Linked DNA regions of Homo sapiens. The protein of the gene in region 2 purifies or fractionates together with the protein of the main gene of each other region. This does not show direct contact. Each region holds a gene or a part of one and is shown on either strand. Other genes may lie near its edges.

What was found.
Region 1: the proteins of DLK2 (region 2) and VEZT purify together in Homo sapiens (affinity purification with mass spectrometry; 2 studies listed by BioGRID and IntAct, with this or other methods). This does not show direct contact.
Region 3: the proteins of DLK2 (region 2) and SLC7A2 purify together in Homo sapiens (affinity purification with mass spectrometry; 2 studies listed by BioGRID and IntAct, with this or other methods). This does not show direct contact.

The regions. Positions count from the first base shown.
Region 1 is NC_000012.12:95,213,978-95,220,829, reverse strand, and holds the start of VEZT (vezatin), read right to left. Parts: upstream 3,024-6,852; 5' UTR 2,980-3,023; coding exon 2,944-2,979; exon of another isoform or gene 2,485-2,943; intron 1-2,484. Other genes in the region: FGD6 (FYVE, RhoGEF and PH domain-containing protein 6), read left to right, coding at 3,590-3,605. UniProt on the Homo sapiens protein: Plays a pivotal role in the establishment of adherens junctions and their maintenance in adult life.
Region 2 is NC_000006.12:43,452,535-43,459,639, reverse strand, and holds the start of DLK2 (protein delta homolog 2 isoform a precursor), read left to right. Parts: upstream 1-4,091; 5' UTR 4,092-4,245; exon of another isoform or gene 4,246-4,535; coding exon of another isoform or gene 4,536-4,814; coding exon 4,815-4,890; intron 4,891-5,059; exon of another isoform or gene 5,060-5,165; coding exon 5,166-5,229; exon of another isoform or gene 5,230-6,466; coding exon of another isoform or gene 6,467-6,504; coding exon 6,505-6,635; intron 6,636-7,105. UniProt on the Homo sapiens protein: Regulates adipogenesis.
Region 3 is NC_000008.11:17,492,452-17,500,110, forward strand, and holds the start of SLC7A2 (cationic amino acid transporter 2), read left to right. Parts: upstream 1-4,636; 5' UTR 4,637-4,786; intron 4,787-7,659. UniProt on the Homo sapiens protein: Functions as a permease involved in the transport of the cationic amino acids (L-arginine, L-lysine, L-ornithine and L-homoarginine); the affinity for its substrates differs between isoforms created by alternative splicing.

The DNA of each region.
Region 1 (6,852 bases), on a different chromosome or scaffold from region 2:
TAACCAAACACATACAAAAAGGTTCACAGTAGCACTAGTTTAAACCTGGGAACTACTCAATGACCATTAATAGAAGAATGAATTTAAAAATGATCATATATTCACATGGAATACTATGCCAAAATAAAAATTCTCATGTTAACAATATGGACGAATCTCACAAATAAAGCCAGAGAGGAAAAAAAAAAGTCAGAAATAAGAGAGTATATAAATGGAAATGCACAGTGTCTAAACAATAAAAATAGACAAAATTAATCTAGGTTATTATGTTTAAATAGTGATCATTTTGGGGTAGGGAGTAGTGATGGAAAGGACCAGGAGGGAGCTTCTGGTGTGCTGGTGATGTTGTTTCTTTTTTCATTTTTTATTTTTTTGGGGCAGAGTCTGGCTCTGTCATCCAGGCTGGAGTACAGCGGTGCGATCATGGCTCACTGCAGCCTTGACCTACCCAGGCTCAAGTGATTCTCCCACCTCAGCCTCCCGAGTAGCTGGGACTATAGGCATGTGCCACCACGCCCAAATAATTTTTGTCTTTTTTGTAGAGATAGGGTTTCACCATGTTGTCCAGGCTAATCTCAAACTCCTGGGTTCAAGGGATCCATCTGCCTCAGCCTCCCAAAGTGCTGAGATTACAGGTGTGAGCCACCATGCCCCATCTGTCCCGTTTCTTGATCTGGGTGCTGGTTACATGGGTGTGCTCAACATGTGAAAATATAACCATCCACACACTTGTGATCTGTGCCCTGTCCTTATGTAAATTATACTGCAATAAAAATTGTGTATATCAAAGAGCAAACAAACAGCAAACTGGAAATTTTTCTGCAAGTATGACAAAGGCTTAGTAATATATGAAGAACTCACGCAAGTCAATTTTTTTAAAGCTAGCATCTAATAAGAAAATGAGCAACAAATATGAAGAGAAATGTTCAAAGAAATAAAAATAGCTAATAAATGTATAAATGCATAAAATGTAAATTAAAACAATGGAATGTTATTTTTGCCTATCAAATTAGCAAAGATTAAAGGAAACTGTTAAGGCTGTTGTTGAGGATTTGGTGAAACCAATACTCTCTTATTCTTAATGGAAACCGGAATTGGTATAACCTTTCTGCGTAAGTCTTAAATGTTCATATTCTTTCACCCACTAGTTCTACTTCTAAAAATTATTCTGAGGAAAATCAGAGTTGTAGTTAAAAATAGGCTTATATCACTGTTGATTACAATGGTATTTTTTTAAAAAAAGGTTATATTATGATACACGTGAGGGGATATTATAATATTAATGTTTTCAGAGAATGATGAATGGGAAAAGATTCACGATAAAGTCAAGTGAAAAATATATACAAAATTCTACGTGGTATACCTTTTGTTTTAAAAAATATCACACACACATTGTGTCTTAATATAGAGGCTAAAAAATTACACACACATAAACACACATTTACATAGAAATAAAGTCTATAAGAACACATACCGTACTGTTAATAGTTACCATCTTTGGGTGGTGGGATAATGGATGATTTTAACTTGGGGGCTTATTTTCTACAATAAAATGTTCCTTGAGCATATATTACTATTATATTCAGAAATCAAAAATAATGGGTAAAAAAAATACACCCATCAGTTACCCTTACTCTAGAAAATATTTCTCTCTCCTTCAGCTACCACATTCAATCTATAAACATTGCCTCGATTTTAACTTACAAGTGTCTGTCCAAGCCATTATTCCATTACGTCTCTCATTTCATCTCAGGCCCTTGTCTTCCCTAATGAACGCCTCATATCTAGACTCTTCACTTCGGTAAAATGGCCACATTTTCCACTGCTTCTTCATTGCAGCCACATCAAGCCACTTTACATAGCCACCCTCCACACCCCGCCCCCTAAAAATGCACACCAGGTACTTTCACACTTCCCAAGCTTGGCATAATCAGTTCTCTTTCCCTGTAATACATTTTCTCCTGCCGGTTTTTCTAATCCAATTCATAGTTAAAGATTCACCTCGGATATCGCGTACTGGGTGTAGCCTCTGGGAGGCCGCAAGAACAGAAATTAATCCTTCAATGACAGTTTGTACATATTTCAACATTTAGCATTCTGTCCTGTCTGTGCCTCGCTCTCTCGCTGTATGGCATGGGCCACTTCATTTTTAAATTTTCTTAAAATCTAGTTGGATAAATGAAAGTAAAGCGTATACATGCAATACACATACGTACAGGGGTGCGAGTTTTGACCTGTGTCTGATGGAAAAAAATGGCATCAAAAACACTCGCCCGATTTTTTTCATTCAAGATGGCAGAGAACGTCTTAAAATAGTCCCACACAAAAGCACTCACATCTAGAGCCCCGAGTCAGAAGAACTGGCTACACCTAGCGCAACAGCAAAGGACAAAAGAATCGAATCTAGATGCTGAGATGCCCTGGCCCTAACTACCCACAGTAGGTCCCACAAATAGACTTTAAACCGTGTTAGAAAACGGGCACCTGCTGCCTTCATTCCGAGGGCCACGCCTTGACGGTGAACAGTGACCTGAAGCACTCTGGATACTGACCCAAAAAAATCGCGGATGGAAAAGGAGGAGGCTAAGTTGTGACTATCTAAAAGGCACGATTCGGCCCCGCCCCAGCCGGGCGCAGTCCCCCCCGCCGCACATCCATTCCCAGGAAGGAAGAGACACCGCTCCAGCCCAGAGCCTGGCAACCGGGCACCGTCTGGGAATTCTGGGCGGGCCCGAGATAGAGGCCGGCCACGGCCAGGGCGCCTCTGGCTACACCTGTCAGGCGACGACGGACTCTAGGCCCTGAAATCGCTGGGGTTCGGTGGTCGAGGCCAGCTGGAGCGCGTCACCCGATCCCTCGCCCCGGGAACGCCTTGCTTCCTCGATTTCCGTCTCGTCCTTCTCAAACAAAGGCAATCCACACCCACCGCCATTTTCCTCTTACCTCAAAAACCACCTCTTCGTCAAACTCCGGTGTCATCCTTCTCCGCCATGCCACCCGCCTCAGCACGATGGGAAATGAAGGCGGGAGTACAGGCGGCACGGAGCTCCAGCTCCTGCCCGTCCCGTGGGTCCAGAAAACTACAATTCCCAATATGCCTCGCCGCTCACGCCCCCTTTTCGAGCCCGCTTATTGGAGAAGAGAGTGAGCGTGTAAGCGAGAGAGGCGGGAGCGAGCTGAAGCTCGAGCCCTCCGATTGGAGGAGGCTAGGGCTTTTGTCTGCCTTTTACGGCCGCGACTAGCAGGGGGCGCCCGGAGCACTGCTGATTTTTGGAGCCCGAGAAGGGCACGCGCCAGCGGAGCCGAAGAGAGCACTGCTCGTGCCCGCGCCTGGCTGTCAGCCTGCCGCTCTGCGGGGCGGTGCTAGTGCTCGCCCGCCCGACCCCGGCGGCTCGCGCCCGGGAGCGCCGCAGGGTCGCTAGAGTCGGCCGCGTCCTTTGTGTGGCGCTCAGGCTGCGCCGCGGGGCGGCGGGACGGAATGTGGGCGCTGCGGGGGCTTTTCTCTCCTACCCGAACTGTGGGAACAATGGACTGAAAGGGGAAGATGGATTGAGGGGCCGAGCGGGGAAGCGAGCTGCACCGGGGAATCATGACTTCTGCAGCCGGTAAGTGACGGCGCTCGCGCTGCCGCGGGAAAGTTTGTGGCGAGCGCTGCTAGGCTTGGGCTCGCGAGCAACTTTCTTCGCCGGGGTGGGCGAGTTGTGTGCCCCGTACCTTTGCCGAGCACCTCGGCAAGCGCGGAGCTAATGGGATTCGCTGCCGGCTTTCTCGTCTTTTCCTGCCCAGAGGGGCTGTTTGGAAACCCGGGATTTCTCGGGATCTCCCTTCCAAGGGGGACTGTGCTGGGGGCTCTGCACCAGGTGAAATGCGATGTGTGAAGGGCGTTCGCTCATCTCTCCAGCAGTGCGAGGACTTCGCCTTTGCATGTGAAAATAGTGTAGATTCCCAAGTTAATAGATCAGTTATTATAGGTAAAGGCAGTGTTCTCAGCGTGTTCAATTTGGCCACTAAGTGAGTCGCTTTCAACCTTGTATCTGCTGGTAAACCTTTTACCCATTTTAAAGAGGCGTAGACATTGTCATGTCCTGGTGGTTTTACCTCTGTTACCTGAGAAGCAGAGGAGTTGAGATTGTTGAGGTTTTTTTTTTTTTTTTTTTTTTGCTTGTCTGCACCCAATTACAATTATTTTGTTTGTTTCTACCTGATTAGGGTAAACAAAGCTTTATTTTCTGTCTGCCTCCCATAGTTCTTTCCCCTTCATCCAAATGACAAAGCCTCTATCTTTGTGTGGATTTTCAGCAATTCTAGACGTTGTGTTTCTGAACATTCTTAAGGAACAATTTCTGTTTTACAAAATAATTACCAAAGTGGTGTTACGTTCACTTCGTAAGTACATAGGTTAATTTTTAAACCAGAACTTATGTATTAAGTAGAGTGTTATGGGTTATTTTACGTTTTTGTCCACGTTGAAACTTTCATTAGAAATTTTATAGTGAAATAGTTTAAAGCTTCTTCTCAAGGTTACTTCCAGAATCAGCACTTAAGTATCAGATTAAATTTTCATTGCTTTTCTTGGCATTTGTTTAAAATTCTTGCAACTTGAAACTGTCCAACAGCACTCAAATGTTCTGATTTGTATTATTTCTAAAGCCTAGATATATTGTAGTGTTGCATTGCTCCCTGTGATCAGATTACAACAAACGAAACAAGAAGTTAGCCAATAGGAAAAGAAAGCAAGAAGTGGGTGTTGTGTGGGTCTTTCCTTTTTGATGTTATATGCACTTATATGAGATATCTTTATAAACTCTCTTTTCTTTGCCAAAGGGAGGCTTTATACTTACATAAGGTAAATTATTTTCATCCTACATTTCTGTGCCTTACCTTCGTTCAAGAAATTGATTTAAATTAAAAGTGGTTGGAAATTTTAAAATCCTTCCAGCCAGTTTTAGCTCTTTCCTTTTTGGAGGTGTCAAATGTATTTAAAATAACCGTGTCTTATATGTATCAGTTTTCAATTCCAGTCTTAACAGTTTATAAGGAACAGGCACAGAAGCATGTAATTTCACATTTATGTAAACCCAATTTCTAGGGCCCAGACTGGAAGTTCATGATTCTTGCATTTGAATTATCCTAAAATAATGCAAGCTATTTTTGTATTTTATCAACTTTACAATTAAAGAAATCCACAGAAATTTTTGTGGTGTTTAAAGTGGGACACTTCCTGTGTCTAGCCGAGTTGGTTGGTTTTTAGCATTGCTGGCTGAGAAGCATCAACTACTTTTTTGCTCACCCATCTGTTGGATTTATCATAATTCTTTCTGGTGTCTAGATGGGGAATATGGAAGAGAACTGGGGTTTTATTTCTACCCATTCTTATATGTATACATAGTTCTTACAAGCTGATTATGGTGCTTTTTGGGAACAATAGTCAAATTCATTGAAACGTTTAGGAAAGTTACTTGAAGTTAAGGGAGGGGATTTTTGCTTTTGAATCTAATCTGTGGTATTTGGAAGGGTTGGTTTAATTTAAGAAAATAAAAGGAATGTTGTAGAACATCTAGGTTATATGTATCCAGCAGAAAAGCTTGCTTTGTTTTTCTACATCTATAAAATAATCTGCCCTTAGTGGAGATTTCAGAATTATTTTAAGCTGTATATGAAAAAGGAGAGGCTGGGCGCAGTGGCTCAAGCCTGTAATTCCATCACTTTGGGAGGCCAAGGCGGGTGGATCACTTGAGGTCAGGAGTTTGAGACCAGCCTGGCCAACATGGCAAAACCCTGTCTCTACTAAAAATACAAAAATTAGCCAGGTGTGGTGGGGTGCGCCTGTAGTCCCAGCTATTCGGGAGGCTGATATGAAAATTGCTTGAGCCAGCGAGGCGGAGGTTGTGGTGAGCCGAGATCGAGCCACTGCACTCTAGCCTGGGTGACAGAGCAAGACTCCATCTCAAAAAAAAAAAAAAAAAAAGAAAAAAGGAGAGAGAATTATAGGTATATATAGGTATATATTTTGTGTCCTTTTGAACATGTACAGGTCACTGTCTTCATTGTCTGTGCTTTGCGTTTTGGCTGGTCCAGTAGCCAGAGAGTGTACACGTGAACCACAGCCATCTGTGTGTAACAGATGACGAGTATGTTTGTAATAGTTAGTAAAATGGTACTAGTGCTTTACTTTCTTACCTTATATTTCCCTGGAGCCAAACAGCTGTGTAAATAAAAGATTTGCTGCTTTGCTCTAAGAAGCTTTGGGTCTGACTGTTGATGCAGTATTAAGATCCAAAGGTGCTAGATTTATTGCCAAATGTCATGCACTTATTTCACATTGGAGTAGACCATAATATAATGGCTTATTATTTTTTGAGTTGTGTTTCTTCCAAAATAGAGCCATGAAAAAAAAATAATGAAGGATTTTGGATATTGCTCTACCAGTGACTTAGTTGAACACTTGTTCCTATTAATAATTAAGGAATTTTTCAATAATCGTATTGAAATTGATTCCTGCTAACTTTTCAAAATATTATTCTACATTAAAATGGATGTACATTTTTGAATGTGATTATTTTTAAAGAAGAAATTTTCTGTTATGGAGACATATTAAAGAGTATGTGTATGTGGCAGCTGTGATTATTCCCAGGCCCTGTTGTTAGCACTGGGATACATCAGTGAATGAGACAAAGTGCCTGCCCTTCTGGAGCTTGTGTCTTATGCTGAACACAGACAAAGGTGAACTGAAAAAACATCAACGCAGGAGACAGAGGCCACAGTACATGAGGTTCTTCTGAAATGAGTGTCTCAGAAGTTATCATCTCAGATTCCTATGGGCTTTAGAGGCCTGTTCAACTCCCCCATTTA
Region 2 (7,105 bases):
TTAAAAAGAATTTATTTTTCATGACTTCTTTGACTCAGTCACTCATCAATTCAGACTTGATCATAAGGAAGGAGCCTAAAACATGGGGAAAAAACCTACCTTCATAAAAATGTGTGGCACTAATAAATATTATCTGGGAGCTGTATCCTCAGTGGCTCTGGTATCTAATGGTAATATATGACTACTCAATATTTGTTGAATGAATTTATAATGACAAAAAAAGTAAACAACCTAAGCAGCCAATAACTAGGGCTAAGTAAAGTAAATATAGTATATCTATTTAATGGAATATCACATAGCCATAAAAAATGCTTTTGAGAACTATCAATATATGACATGGAGTAAAAAAAAGCAGGATACAATACTGTAGGTACATTATGATTATACCTCTGTAAAAATATCTGAATGGAAAAAAGGAATCAAAACAACAATAATTGTGGTTTTCTCAAGCTAGTAGGATTGTGGGTGGTTTTTTTCCTTTCCTTTTCTTTGAGATGGAGTCTTGCTCTTGTTGCCCAGGCTAGAGTGCAGTGGCATGATCTAGGCTCACCGCAACCTCTGCCTCCCAGGTGCAAGCGATTCTCCTGCCTCAGCCTCTCAAGTAGCTGGGATTAAAGGCAGGTGCCACCACGCCCGGCTAATTTTGTATTTTTAGTAGAGACAGGTTTTCTCCATGGTGGTGAGGCTGGTCTCGAACTCCTGACCTCAGGTGATCTGCCTGCCTTGGCCTCCCAAAGTGCTGGATTTACAGGCGTGAGCCACCGCGCCCAGCCAGTTTGCTTTCTTTTTTTTTTTTTTTTTGAGACGGAGTCTCGCTCTGTCACCCAGGCTGGAGTGCAGTGGTGCTATCTCGGCTCACTGCAAGCTCCGCCCCCTGGGTTCATGCCATTCTCCTGCCTCAGCCTCCCGAGTAGCTGGGACTACAGGCGCCTGCCACCACACCCAGCTAATTTTTTGTATTTTTAGTAGAGACGGGGCTTCACCGTGTTAGCCAGGATGGTCTCGATCTCCTGACCTCATGATCCTCTCACCTCAGCCTCCCAAAGTGTTGGGATTACAGGCGTGAGCCACCGCACCTGGCCTTTTTCTTTTTACTTTATTCTAAAAAAATGTTAGGCTGGGCACGGTGACTCATGCCTGTAACCCTAGCACTTTGGGAGGCCAAGGCCGGTGGACCACTTGGGGTCACTTCGAGACTAGCCGGGCCAACATGGCGAAACCCCGTCTCTACTGAAAATGCAAAAATTAACTGGGCAGGCCGAGGGCAGTGGCTCACGCCTGTGATCCCAGCACTTTGGGAGGCCAAGCGGGCAGATGACCTGAGGTCAGGAGTTGTAAACCAGCCTGGCCAACATGGCGAAACCCTGTCTCCACTACAAATACAAAAATTAGCCTGGCTTGGTGGGGGCGCGCCTGTAATCCCAGCTACTCGGGAGGCTGAGGCAGAAGAATTGCTTGAACCCGGGAGGCGGAGGTTGCAGTGAGCCAAGATGGAGCCATTGCACTTCAGCCTGGGTGACAGAGCGAGACCCTGTCTCAAAAAAAAAAAAAAAAAAAAAGAGTTAATTAAACAAACAGAATTTTAAAAAAATTTATTGAATACCTACTATGCCAGGCATTGTTTTAGACACTGGGGATGCTGTGATGAGCAAGAAAACATCCCAGACCTCTGGAGTTTGCTTTGTAGTGGGGAGATGGTCAATAAACAATAAATATTTAATATAATGTCAGATAATGATATCTGACAGAGAAAAGCACTGAAAGTCTCGAGAAAAAAAAATTAGCTGGGCGTGGTGGCGCTGTGCCTGCAATTCCAGCTATACTGGAGGCTGAGACGAGGTTGTACTGAGCTGAGGTTGCACTACTGCACTCCAGCCTGGGCGACAGAGTGATAATCTCAAGGAAAAACAAACAAACAACAACAAAAAACAAGTTATAGATGTTCATTGTTTAAAAAAAAAAAAAAAGGGGCGGGCGCGGTGGCTCACGCCTGTAATCCCAGCACTTTGGGAGGTCGAGGCGGGCGGATCACGAGGTCAGGAAATCAAGACCATCCTGGCTACCATGGTGAAACCCCGTCTTTACTAAAAATACAAAAAAAAATTAGCCGGGCGGGGTGGTGGGCGCCTGTAGTCCCAGCTACTTGGGACGTTGAGGCAGGAGAATGGCGTGAACCTGGGAGGCGGAGCTTGCAGAGAGCCGAGATAGCGCCACTGCACTCCAGCTTGGGCCACAAAGCGAGACTCCGTCTCAAAAAAAAAAAAAAAAAAAAAAAAAAAAGTGTTAATGCTGAAAAGTATTAATAAGAAAAAAAAAAAAACCTCTATAATTCGATCATCCAGAGAAAAGCACTGCCAATGTCAAAGTACGTTCTTCTTTGTTTCCGGCTTCCCCCCACCGCACTTTACATATTCTTAGCTTTTTTGGACATCTTTAGACGTCAAAAAAAAAAAAAAGTATTTTTAACAGTCACATAGTGTTGATGTGCCATAATTTATTTGCCTACAGTAATTTTTGAATTATAGGTTGTTTGCAATTTTTCACCAAAAAAAAAAATGTGTTTAAACAAAATGAATGGTACAGCCATGTCATTACTCAAATTCAGAGAGCTCTTCAGGGAAGAGGCGATCACAGCTGAGAGGAGGCCAGCTAGGGAGCTGAGTGGGTGTAAGTGTTATATCCAATGGAGACTGCAGGAAAAATGAGCCCTGGGGCTCTGTGCCTGTGGAGGTGGCTGTGTGAAGGTGGGAAGCTGCTCTGCCCCGACTAGCGACTGCTCCTTCCGATGTTTTGAATTTAAAGATGGTGAAATCTCAATCTGAAGGACTAGAGATGGGCGCTAGCGTTCCTGACCTCTGCCCTGTTGTCCTGCACAAACTAGAAATTATGTTCTGGGTCCTTGTCTTTTTTTGGGGGGGGGCGGGGGTCGGAGTTTTGCTCTGTCCCCCAAGCTGGAGTGCAGTGGCGCGATCTTGGCTAACTGCAACGTCTGCCTCCCGGGTTTTCAAGCGATTTTCCTGCCTCAGCCTTCCGAGTAGCTGGGATTACAGGCGCGCACCACCACGCCTGGCTAATTTCTGTATTTTTAATAGAGACGGGTTTCACCATGTTGGCCAGGCTGGTCTCGAACTCCTGACCTCAGGTGATCCGCCCGCCTCAGCCTCCCAAAGTGCTGGAATTATAGGCGTGAGCCCACCGAGCTTGGCTGGGTCCTTGTCTTGAAATGTGTCTCTGAGCCATTAGCCAGAAGGGGGCAAAGAGGCCTGGAGGGCAGCTTTCCCCCACTCCCCCTCCGTTACTCTCTGAATCTGAGCTCCAGGTTTGGGCAGTTGAGGTTTAGCCTGAGGCCAAGGACGAACGTGATGGGGTACAGGAGAAGACTTGGCGGTGGAGGGGGTTTTGTGTGCACATTTACAGAGTCAGGGGCATTCCCAGTCCAGAAAGGATTCTCAGAGGCAGTCACAAAAAGGAATGGGGTGGAAGGGCTGAGACTTGAGGGAGGGAAGGGTGGTGGGGGTAGGGCCGGGGTGTGGTTGGGTGGATCGGGTTGATATTTATATAGGGATAGGTTGATCTTGGAAGGCTGGAGACGGCAACGTGGACAGGAAGAAGCGGAGGGCGAGGAGGAGCAGAGGAGCACACAGATGAAGCAGGTGATGAAGGCTTTACAAGCGGGGAGGCGTGGGCTGGTGACAGGCGGAGGGCGGGGAGCGATTGCCTGCGTGTGCATAGATCTATATGAGAAGCGTGATGAGCGGCGGACAAGCGAAGGCAGGGCTGGGGCGTGGGCCGCGGAGCGCTGGTCGGGAAAGTGGGCATGGGAGATGAGAGAATAACGGGGTTGCGCTCCTTTGGCTTAATAGTTTGCTCCCATTGAGACTCCTAAGATTTCCTCCTCTCTTGGAAGGAAGCTGGGTTCGGGGCGTTGGGTAGCCGCGGAGGGCCGGGGCCCCGGGGCGCGCCGGGTGCTAGGTGTGCGCCGTGCGTCGCGGGGGGGGGGATGGGGGTGGGGGCGGGCTCCGCCCCTGGCAGGGGGCCTGAGCGCGCGCGAGGAGCAGCCGCTGCCGCCGCTCGGGGTCGCCTGGAGCCCCAGATTCCCGAGCGCTCGGCTCGCATGGCAGCCGCTTCGGCGCCCGGCCCCGCGGCCAGCTAGGGGCGGCCCCGCGCTCCCTCACGGCCCCTCGGCGGCGCCCGTCGGATCCGGCCTCTCTCTGCGCCCCGGGGCGCGCCACCTCCCCGCCGGAGGTGAGGACTGCGGGGACAGGGCGCGGTGGGGATTCCAGGCCCCGCGCCGCCGCCGAACCCAGCGCGGCGGAGATAGAAAGGGGACGTGGGAGAGAGTGGTGGTGGCGGGGGGGGGGGCTGTCGGAGCTGTGGGGCGGAGACTGCTCGCTGCCGGGAACCGTCCTTCCCTCCGGCCCCCGCGTCCCCTCCGTGCTCGAGGCCGCCTCTCGGCGCTGTCCCCATCCCGCGGACCCCTCCGTCCTGACTACGATCCCAACCCCAGCCATTCCCGCGCCTGGCCTCGCTCCGCGATGCCCATCTTTCCCCTCCTTGCAGACCCCGCTCCCGGGTTCCTGTCTTCGCTCTCCTCGCTCTCTTCGCCTGCTCAACCCTTCCCTGCCCCCATCCTCCCGCTACCCCCATCCCCTTCTTCTGTCCCGGCGCCCCTCTCCCTCGTCGGCTCCTGTCACTTGGAACCCGTATCCGTGCCGCTATCTCCGCGTCCGGCCGCCTCCCAACCGGTGCCGTCCCACAGGTGTCCACGCGTCCGGCCGTCCATCCGTCCGTCCCTCCTGGGGCCGGCGCTGACCATGCCCAGCGGCTGCCGCTGCCTGCATCTCGTGTGCCTGTTGTGCATTCTGGGGGCTCCCGGTCAGCCTGTCCGAGGTGAGCGCGCCCGCTGGGCTCCAGTCGCGGCCCTGTCCAGCCGTCCTCGCTTGCACGTTGACCTCTGCCGGCCGGAGGCGGCACTGCAGTCGCTCCGACCCGCGGGGCAAGCAAGACCGAGGTTGCCTTTTTGGAATGGGATGAGTTTCTGTGTTATGTCCTGCCCTAGGGTTGAGTCCGCTCAGTTACTGGAACCCCAATCCTCTCCTGAGTCCCGCATCCCAGCGAGCTGTGCCCTGACTCAGACTCACCCCTCCCACATCAATCTCTTGCAGCCGATGACTGCAGCTCCCACTGTGACCTGGCCCACGGCTGCTGTGCACCTGACGGCTCCTGCAGGTACCTGTCCTGAGCACGTGCCCCCAAACCCTTTGGTACCCATTTCTAAGCCCTTCACGTGCACAACAGTGTCTAGGGGCTTCAGACTCTACTCTTCATGCCTCATCACTCCTATGGCTGACTGGCCAGTCCCCCTTTCCCCTTTACCTCACCTCTCTTGCTTCTTCTAGTTTTTATCTCCCCACTTCTTTAATCTCCCAAGTCTGATCCAGGGATTGTCTGAACTCCTGACAGGGAGAGAGACCTAAAGCTTGAGAGAGCTTGGGGATTGGGTGCCATGAGGAAATGGAAAGATAAAGGAAAAAGGGAAAGAGAAATGGTTTAGCCTGGAAAAGAAATGCTGCAGGGAGAGTTGCTGGGGAGAAACACTTACAATGAAAGAGGATCTTTCTTGATGAGTTTGAGTAGTTGACTCACTGGGAGATTGGGCAAATTCTGTAGCAGGAGGAAAGTGGACATAAGGAAATGAGTTGATGAGGCAGGTAGTTCAATTGGCTGGGGGTCTTTGAGACTCTTCACCCCTGGAGGGCTTTTAAAATATGGGTCAAGTGTTTGCCCTGGAATCATGGTGGGAGGATAGTCCTGATGACCTTTTTTGTTTTTATTTTTATTTTTTGTTTTTGAGACAGAGTCTCGCTTTGTTGCCAAGGCTGGAGTGCAGTGGCGCGATCTCAGCTCACTGCAGCCTCTGCCTCTTGTGTTCAAGTTCCCCTGCCTCAGCCTCCTCAATAATGGATTACAGATGCACACCACCATGCCCGGGTAATTTTTTGTATTTTTTGTAGAGACGGGGTTTCACCCAGTTGGCCAGGCTGGTCTTGAACTCCTGACCTCAAGTGATCCACCTGCCTCGACCTCCCAAAGTGCTGGGATTACAGGCGTGAGCAACCACGCCCCGGCCCTGATGGCCTTTCAAGGTCATTCTTCTTTAAATGTTTGTGAGCACCTCAGACATGCCAGGAGGGGTACTGGAGGCATTTACAGACATCTTATTTCTTCCTCTACTCAACCCTGCAAGGTGTATCCCCAATTTACAGGTGAGAAAACTGAGGCTCAGGTTAAAGTACAGAACCAGGGTTTGAGTGCTGGTGTCTGATGGTCTGATTCCGTATATGTGTCCTATGACCCTGCACAGTCCTACACCTACCTGGGACAGGTCTGCTTTCCCTTAGGGGCTGTCATATGTCCTCTTGGTTTCTAGAAGCTCTGGTTCTGTCTCCTCCATTTCTTCACATCCATGACCCAGAGCCCTGACCCTGTGCTTCTCCCCGTCAGGTGTGACCCGGGCTGGGAGGGGCTGCACTGTGAGCGCTGTGTGAGGATGCCTGGCTGCCAGCACGGTACCTGCCACCAGCCATGGCAGTGCATCTGCCACAGTGGCTGGGCAGGCAAGTTCTGTGACAAAGGTAGGGGGGAGGAAGGGTAGCTTTTGGTTGGGAACCCCATGTTCTTAGGGGAACAGCCATCAGTATTTATTGAGTGCCTATTTTGTCCTTGTCAAACCCTCAAATACATGGTATTTTATCATTTTTTTAAATCTTAGACTTTTTATATGTTGTCTGAATTGATCCTCAACATAACCCCATGGGGCAGGAAACACAGCTGCTAAAAATTGTACTCATTTTACAGATGAGGAAACTAAGGCCCACAGAAGAGCTATAACCTGCTCAAAGTCAGGTTTTTTTGTTTGTTTTGTTTTGAGATGGAGTCTCACTCTGTCACCCAGGCTGGAGTGCAGTGGTGCGATCTCGGCTCACTGTAACCTCCGCCTCCTGGGTTCAAGTGATTCTCGTGCCTCAGCCTCCCCAGTAGCTGGAATTACAGGCACCCGCCACTTCAGCTAATTTTTGTATTTTTAGTAGAGATAGGGTTTCAC
Region 3 (7,659 bases), on a different chromosome or scaffold from region 2:
ACCCCCTTACCCCCTCCTTTTTTTTTTTTTAGAGGCGGAGTCTCTCTCTTTCGCCCAGGCTGGAGTGCAGTGGCACGTTCTCTGTCGTTCTCTGCCCCAGCATGATGAGTGGTTTCTAATTTTTTTCTTTTGTAGAAAAGGAGGTAAAAATTACTCTCTCAGCCGGGTATGGAGGCTCACGCCTGTAATCCCAGCACTTTGGGAGGCCGAGGCGGGCAGATCACGAGGTCAGGAGATCGAGACCATCCTGGCTAACACGGTGAAACCCTGTCTGTACTAAAAATACAAAAAATTAGCCGGACGTGGTGGCCCGTGCCTGTAATACCAGCTATTCGGGAGGCTGAGACAGGAGAATCGCTTGAACCCAGGAGGCAGAGATTGCAGTGAGTTGAGAGTGCACCACTGCACTCCAGCCTGGGTGACAGAATGAGACTCCGTCTCAAAAAAAAAAAAAAAAAAAAAAGCATAACAACCTAGATTGTGAAGATTGATGGAGTTAAGAATGATTCAATAATTTAATCTTAAGAGTGCCTTAGTTAGCAAGCAAGACAAAAGGTTATTCAGGATAGTAGGAGGAAAACTAAGAGACCGTGGAAGCCAAGGAGGAGATAGTTTCGAGAAAGAAAGAAAGCAGGAGCGAGTTTGAGGCACAAGAGAACTGCGAAAGGTCCATTGCATATGATTAGGAAGAGATTTCTGGAGCAATTAGGACCCTCATCAAGGTTAAAGAAAAGAGAGGATTTAGATTATCTGAGCTCCCTCCTAAATCCCTGGTTTTCAGTCCTTAGAGCAACAGGCTAACTGATGTTTAGATTAAGAAAACTGACTTTTTCCAGCAGATAAGAGGCCCAGCAGGAATCCTGGCAGAAGGAATTAGAGACTAGCACGGGGCGGGTGGAGCTCAGGGCCATTCCTGATGAATGGCCAATGTAAAGAAACCCCAGAAAGACACCAAGTGACAGGAGGCAGGGAAATTTGTAGGAAGAGCAATGTAGAATGAAAATCATTGCAAAACGGTGATTTGGTCTTAGTTGAAAGACAAGTAGAAGAAGATGAATTTGAAAGACGACTTGTCATTTATATGGACTTGTTGTATTTTTTTTCCAACCATTTTTTCAATATTTTGTTGCTTGCCTTAAGGGATGGGCAGATATGGACTCTGTCCAGTGGAAAGTCACCTCTAGGTTTTTACACATTTTTGAAAGGCGAGTGGAGAACAGCGGTGGCCTGAAAGCTCTTAAAACTAGTGCTCTGGGTCGGGGCGGTGGCTCACGCCTTTAATCCCAGCACTTTGGGAGGTCGAGGTGGGCGGGATCACCTGACGTCAGGAGTTTGAGACCAGCCTGGGCAACGTGGTAAAACCCCGTCTCTACTGAAAATACAAAAAAATTAGCCAGGCGTGGTGGTGAGCGCCTGTAATCTCAGCTACTCCGGAGGCTGAGGCAGGAGAATCGCTTGAATCCGGGAGGCAGAGGTTGCTGTGATCTGAGATCGTGCCCTTGCACTCCAGCCTGGTGACAGAGGGAAACTCCGTCTCAAAAAACAAACAAATAGCTAGTGCTCTGACTCTGGTCCAACTCTTTTTCCCTTTTGAGTTGATTCAGTGACAGCACAAGCATTAGTATCCAGTATCCAACCATCTGAAAAAAATTGGAGGATTTTAGCTTGTCTTCGCTAAAATAGTTTGGGGAATAATAGAGTCACAAATTAGAACTAGTAAGAATCCATTCCTTCAGTCTTGCTAGTTGAAGTAAATCCCTTATTTGTGGACATGAGATTTACTTTAGGTTGTATTTGGCAAGTGTGGGAGTACAGGGTGTGGAATTTATTCAGCTACAAAAGTCCCTTAAAATTCCCCGCAATTTCATAAACCCTTAAGAGTTCAGACATGCAAGAATGTTTGTGAAATCTTTGGAAGATGACAACCTAGGCTACTCTCTCTGCTGAAAATGACTAAGTTGGATTTTCTGCTTCATTCCTAAGGAGGAAACTTGACGGCTGAAAGTGAAAAGTGATGGCAATAAACCAGGGAGCGTGAAATAGAAGGTGGGTGCAAATTTTACTCAACTGGGAAAAAGATGCTAATTCAACCCCGGGCAGCAAGAGAAAATGCAAATGAAGATGAAGTCAAAAGAGCTTAACCTGTTTCAAATATTTCATTTCTAAAAATTCGATTCTATTTTCTCTTGTCTCATAGTCTGTCTTAAGAGACTCATACTAAATCCGTGGGCATCCTATTCTTTCCTCATCTAAACACATTTTTAAAGGTGAGAAATAACCAAAGTTATGAGGCAGGATTCAGGGTTAATCAATAATTTCAAACACGAAATGGAATATGTTAAGTCAAGAACTAGTGTGTAAAGATATTCAGCAATCTTGTTAGAAAGTTGTTTGAAAGAATTTGCTCTTTTTTTGCTTAGAGATGAAGTTGTTGTTCTTATTCACACACATGAACACAGCACGTTCTTGCTTCAGGAAGTGCGCCGGCGGGCAGATTGGATAAATTCAAAGATCGGTATTCTGACAAAATTGGCAGTTTCCAAATTCCAGATAAATTTGTTTATCCCAAATCATTGTGTTGTAACTTAATCACAAATTAAACAGATTTAAACACAGAGCCTTTAAGTAAAAATATGTGGGGAAATAATTGCTTAAGTTTAAAAATAGGAATCTCTATTTTTTTATTTTTTCTTTCTTTATTTTAATCAATGTTGACCAGGTTGGCCTCGAACGTGTAGCCTCGCCTCCTCGAGTGCCAGGGCAACCGCCCTGAGCCACCGCGACTCCCAGGAATCTCTATTTTTTTTAAACCAGGTGAAAAATGTTAGACCAGATTACTCACCCTTAAAAATTAGACAAAGTATCTGAGTCATCGCTCCCTTGAACAACGCCTCCTAGCCGTGGGATTGAGGAGGAATCTGGTGTTAAAAGTCCACACGCATCATTTCCCTTAATGTTATTAATGATAATTTGCATAAGGAATCTTTTTTTGACTGTAAAAATAAGTTTACTTTGACAGTCTCTATTACTTAAGACATTTGGTCTATCAGATAATATCTTCGTAATCATAGTGCTGTTTAAACTTTCAGTTTTTTTGTTCGTTTGCTTTTGTTTTTGAGACGGAATCTCACTCTGTCGCCCAGGCTGGACTGTAGTGGCACTATCTCGGCTCACTGCAACCTCCGCCTCCTGGGCTCAAGCGATTCTCCTGCCTCAACCTCCCGAGTAGCTGGGGTTACAGGCGCCCGCCGCCGCGCCCGGCTAATTTTTGTATTTTTAGTAGAGACGGAGTTTCACCCTGTTGGCCAGACTGGTCTCGAACTCCTGACCTCAGGTGATCGGCGCGCCTCGGCGTCCCAAAGTGCTGGGATTACAGGCGTGAGCCACCACCCCCAGCCTACACTTTCACTTTTTGATGAAATCCATGGATGGCTTCCTGAGATACATTGAGATTTTGTGTGTGTGCTATCTTCTGGAATGAAGCCCCACACCGTTTATTAGATGATCTTGGGGATATATGTCTTGAAGGGAAGAATGATTTAGAATATCACATTAAAATTGTATATGTACTGTGAGGCAGCAATACAAATCTGGCACTTTGCCAAAGTTATTACTAGTAGGTGGGTTAAAGGGACGTTTACTCCAATACTATGCAAAGTAAAGTGGACCTTTCTGTCAAACAAAAATAGTAATAGGCCGGGCATGGTGGCTCAAGCCTGTAATTCTCAGCCTGGTGGCTCAAGCCTGTAGTTGTCAGCACTTTGGGAGGCTGAGGCGGGAGGATAGCTTGAGCCCAGGAGGTCGAGGCTGCAGTGAGCCACGATTGTGTCACTGCCCTCCAGCCTGGGCGACAGAGTGAGACCCTGTCTCTAAAGACAAACCACACACACATATACACACACACACTGACACACACTTATTGTTCAATTCAGTGCGTGTTTTGCTTCGTTTTGGATGAAAATTAACAGGCTTTCACATTGTGACTTAATCTTATCAGAGACTCCTAAAGTAAACAATAGCGCAGTAGGAGAAACCCTGATTGTGTAACTTCTGCTCTTGCTCCCCTGGAAATAATGTCATTTCCTATAAACCCACCCCCAAACAATCGTGACTACGTATTCATACCACTGGAGTCTTCCAAAATAGCAACTGCACATTATTTATCAACGTTTAGTTTGCATTTGACAAAGCACATCCACCTGGGCTTCCATTTATCATTGCTATTATTATATTTTATTATTATTTTCTTATTTCCAAAATCTTTGTAGAATGGAAAGTAAACGGGGGGACCAAAACCCCACTTAGAACTCTGCTTAGAAGATTCGGAAATGCCCTTGAGGTTTGGTCCTCCCAGGAGAGCACGAAGTTTATCCTCGCGCGCAGCCTCTCTTCCCCGGCCCGCGCCCACCGGCCTAGCCCGGGGCTAGCGCCCGCCCACGTGTGCTCGGCTCCAGGCAAACCCCGCTGAGCAGCGGCCGCACACCGCCCACCCCGGGGATTGGTCAGCGCGGCCGGGGCCCGGCGGGAGGCGGGCTCGGGGTCGCGTTCCGGGAGCGCGGAGGAGGCGGTGCCGCCCGGCCCCGCGCCCCGCCCCCGCCCCGGGTGGCTACACAGAGGGGCGCCCACGTGCCCAGCCCTCCTTCTGCAGCGCGGCCGGCGGGCGCTCCTCTTCGCGGGACCAGCGAGGCGGCGGCCGCTGCTCCAGCGTCCCCCAGCCGCGGGCCCCCGACGCGCTGCAGCCGGCAGCCCACCGCCGCCTTCTTGGCGCGACCCCAACCCAGCCCCAGTAAGTTGCTAGGTCTCCAGCCCCGCCGAGAGGCCGCGGGCGAGGGGCAGCCCGGACGCTGGGGCCGGCGGGGAAGGAGCGGGGCGAGGGCGCCCTGGGGCCGGCGGGGAACTAGAGGGTCGAGGGCTCCCGGGGACGAGTCCAGCTGCGCGCAGCTGCCCTGAGGCCGCGCTCCAGCGAGTCTTCGTCAGGGAGTCGGGGCCGTGGGCTGGGGCTGAAGCCGTGGACCTTCGTCCTCGGGGCTGCGCCCCGGAATGCGCCTCGCCTCGTCCGGTCCCTGTGCAGCCGGCTCTGCCCGGGGACTTCGGGGACCGCTGGAACTGGGAGAGGGGCTGGCACGGCGACTTCGCGGGGACCCTTCAGTCACTATTTCCAGAGGAGCTCGGCGCACCCCTCTCCGGGTGGGCAGGCTGAACCTCCTGGCCCTGCACGCTGCCGGGGTCCCCGAAGCCGCCTTCGCTCCTTTTCGGTTCTTGGCTTAAATTAGAAAGCCGGCTTGGAGCGCTGGAAGCCCCTTCACATTCTGCAGGGGACCTGGTAAAATAGCCCGTCTTGGTGTTTGTATTGGGTATTTTAAAGTAACTGGGTGCCTTTTAAAATCCGTTTGAGATGGGCTGTATTTTATAAGCCCGTTTCATGAAACGCTGTTCTTGAGGCTTAGAGAATCTCCCAACCCATCACCCCAGAGTACCTGTCCGTTCAGAAAGTACCTTTTCATCCTCTTTTGACGCTTACATCCAGTCTATGGAGTAAGGTATTGAGAGATTGTCATCTTCAACTCGTCGAAAAGAAATATGCTCAGCAAAAGCCACAATCATATGTGGCTTTTGAAGTGGATATAGTGCCTGGATTTCAAGAGAAAAAGTACTCAGCCTCTTCAGAGTTGTAAATATTTGTGCAAAACTGGCTAAAGCCTTTAGGTGACTAATTTTGGACCAGTAATAAGATTTATCTAGACGTTTGTGCAGAAACACTAATCCTTTTAATGAGAGGATATCGTCAGATCTTATTCAAATAAGAGCTCTCTGAATCCCATCCAGGGCCGCCTGGGTTATAAAATTAGAATGTATGTGGCCTTGACTTGATACTTTTTCATTCTTGCCTGAGCTAGTCTTTAAAAGTTAATAATTATCTCCTCCGGAAGGTGAAACATTCTGTGTTTGTAATCTTTCTCTAGGAGATGTATAAGATGTGAATATTCTGTATTATGTACCTTGTTAGGATTGCTTTGTAATTAGTAAATCCTTTTTTATTTTAATTGCACTGAAGCGTGACATGAAATGATCTCTCAGTGCAGAACACAGGACTTCTTCCCTCTCCTTTTCCTACAAAGTTGCTAGTTGCCTGCTCTGGGAGGCCACTTTATTGTGATTTTTCAAGTTTCTTCCCTCGGCCCACACTTTGTTTACATTCTGTGCCTTCATCTGGGAATGGTCATTTACCTTAAGGCATTTTAATCTTTTAGGGTGTGCCATGGCCTTGGAGACCAGAGTAAAGCGCTGTGGTATCTGCGGGGATCAGTTTGCAGAATCCTTGGCCTCCTAAGCAGTGGGCATAGCTCTTTTCATTCCAGAATCTCTGATCATTCCAGAGTCTCTCCTGTCACTGGGCTTAGGAGCCTGGGAAGGCGAATAGAAGCTAGCTGGGGAGACAGGGGAGCTGTGGCAGTTTAAAAAGCCTGATCTTGCGCTGGAGTTTTTCATCTTGCATTCTCATGTATCTTTGCCTTTTGAACACATGTGCCTGAAGAATTTTAAAGTTCACGTTTCTTGCTTTGCACTGCAAGCACACTCACCTTTGCAGAGTGGAAGTGCCTTGTCCCCATTCTAGGTGGTCTACCTTCTGTTCTCTTTTCAGACCTCCTGGCTTAAGCCCTTGTTTCTCCTGGCTGTTATGGCCAGACCCGGAGTCCCCGTTGTGCCCATTTCTTCTCTTTTCAGTCCTTCCTTTTCAAATGTTTTTTCCCAGAAGTCCTCTGGCAACTTCTCTATTTCACCTAGCCTCTGTCTTCTCTTGTTTTATTTTTCCCTCTCTCCCTCCCTCTCTATCCCTCTTTCCCCCTCTTTCCCTCCTTCTCCCTCCTTTCTCTCTTCCTCTCTCTCTGTCTCTCTCTCTCTCTCCCCCTCTCTCCCTCATTTCTCTCTCCCTCTCTCTGTCCCTCTTCCCTCCATTCTCTCTCCCCCCTTCTCTCTCTGTGTGTTCAGAGCCATCTGCTGGTTTTACTTTGGTGCCCTTTGGTGGACAACTTTCAGAACAGAATCTTGGGAGCACCTTCATGTTGCTGTTTGCTTTATTTCCCCCAAACATGTAGATATGAACACACTGATTTTAAAGACTCTTATAGACTACCTACTAGATGCCAAACATTTAGAACAAAAGCAAAAGCTTTCAGTGGAATATATTTCTAAATACTCACATATTTAGTTTTGGGTGCATCATTTGAATGCTTTGTCATCCAAATGAATCCTGAAAAACTTAGTTAACTAAGATTTCACTTAAGTGATAGCACTTGTCTAAATGGGCTTGAAAATCGAAGCTGTTAATTAATTTCTAAAACTTTAATCTGGATATTAAAAACCATATAGATACAACCTTGAATGACAACAGAAAACTAATGGAATTGTTCTTGTCATTGTCTTCCATTTTAATAACTTTTCATTTTAGTACCTAATATAGTATGTGTCACATAACACATGCTTATATGTCTTTATTGTTGAGTGAATGCCACTGATTTCAACAGTTTGAGAAAAGATGTTTTATCTGTCTTCAAATGTATTTATTCCTTCATTGAAAACTTACTTTCTACTCTGTACACTGGAAAATCAAAAAAGTAATGTGTAACTCCGGTTTTAGAGGGATTCTATAATTATGTT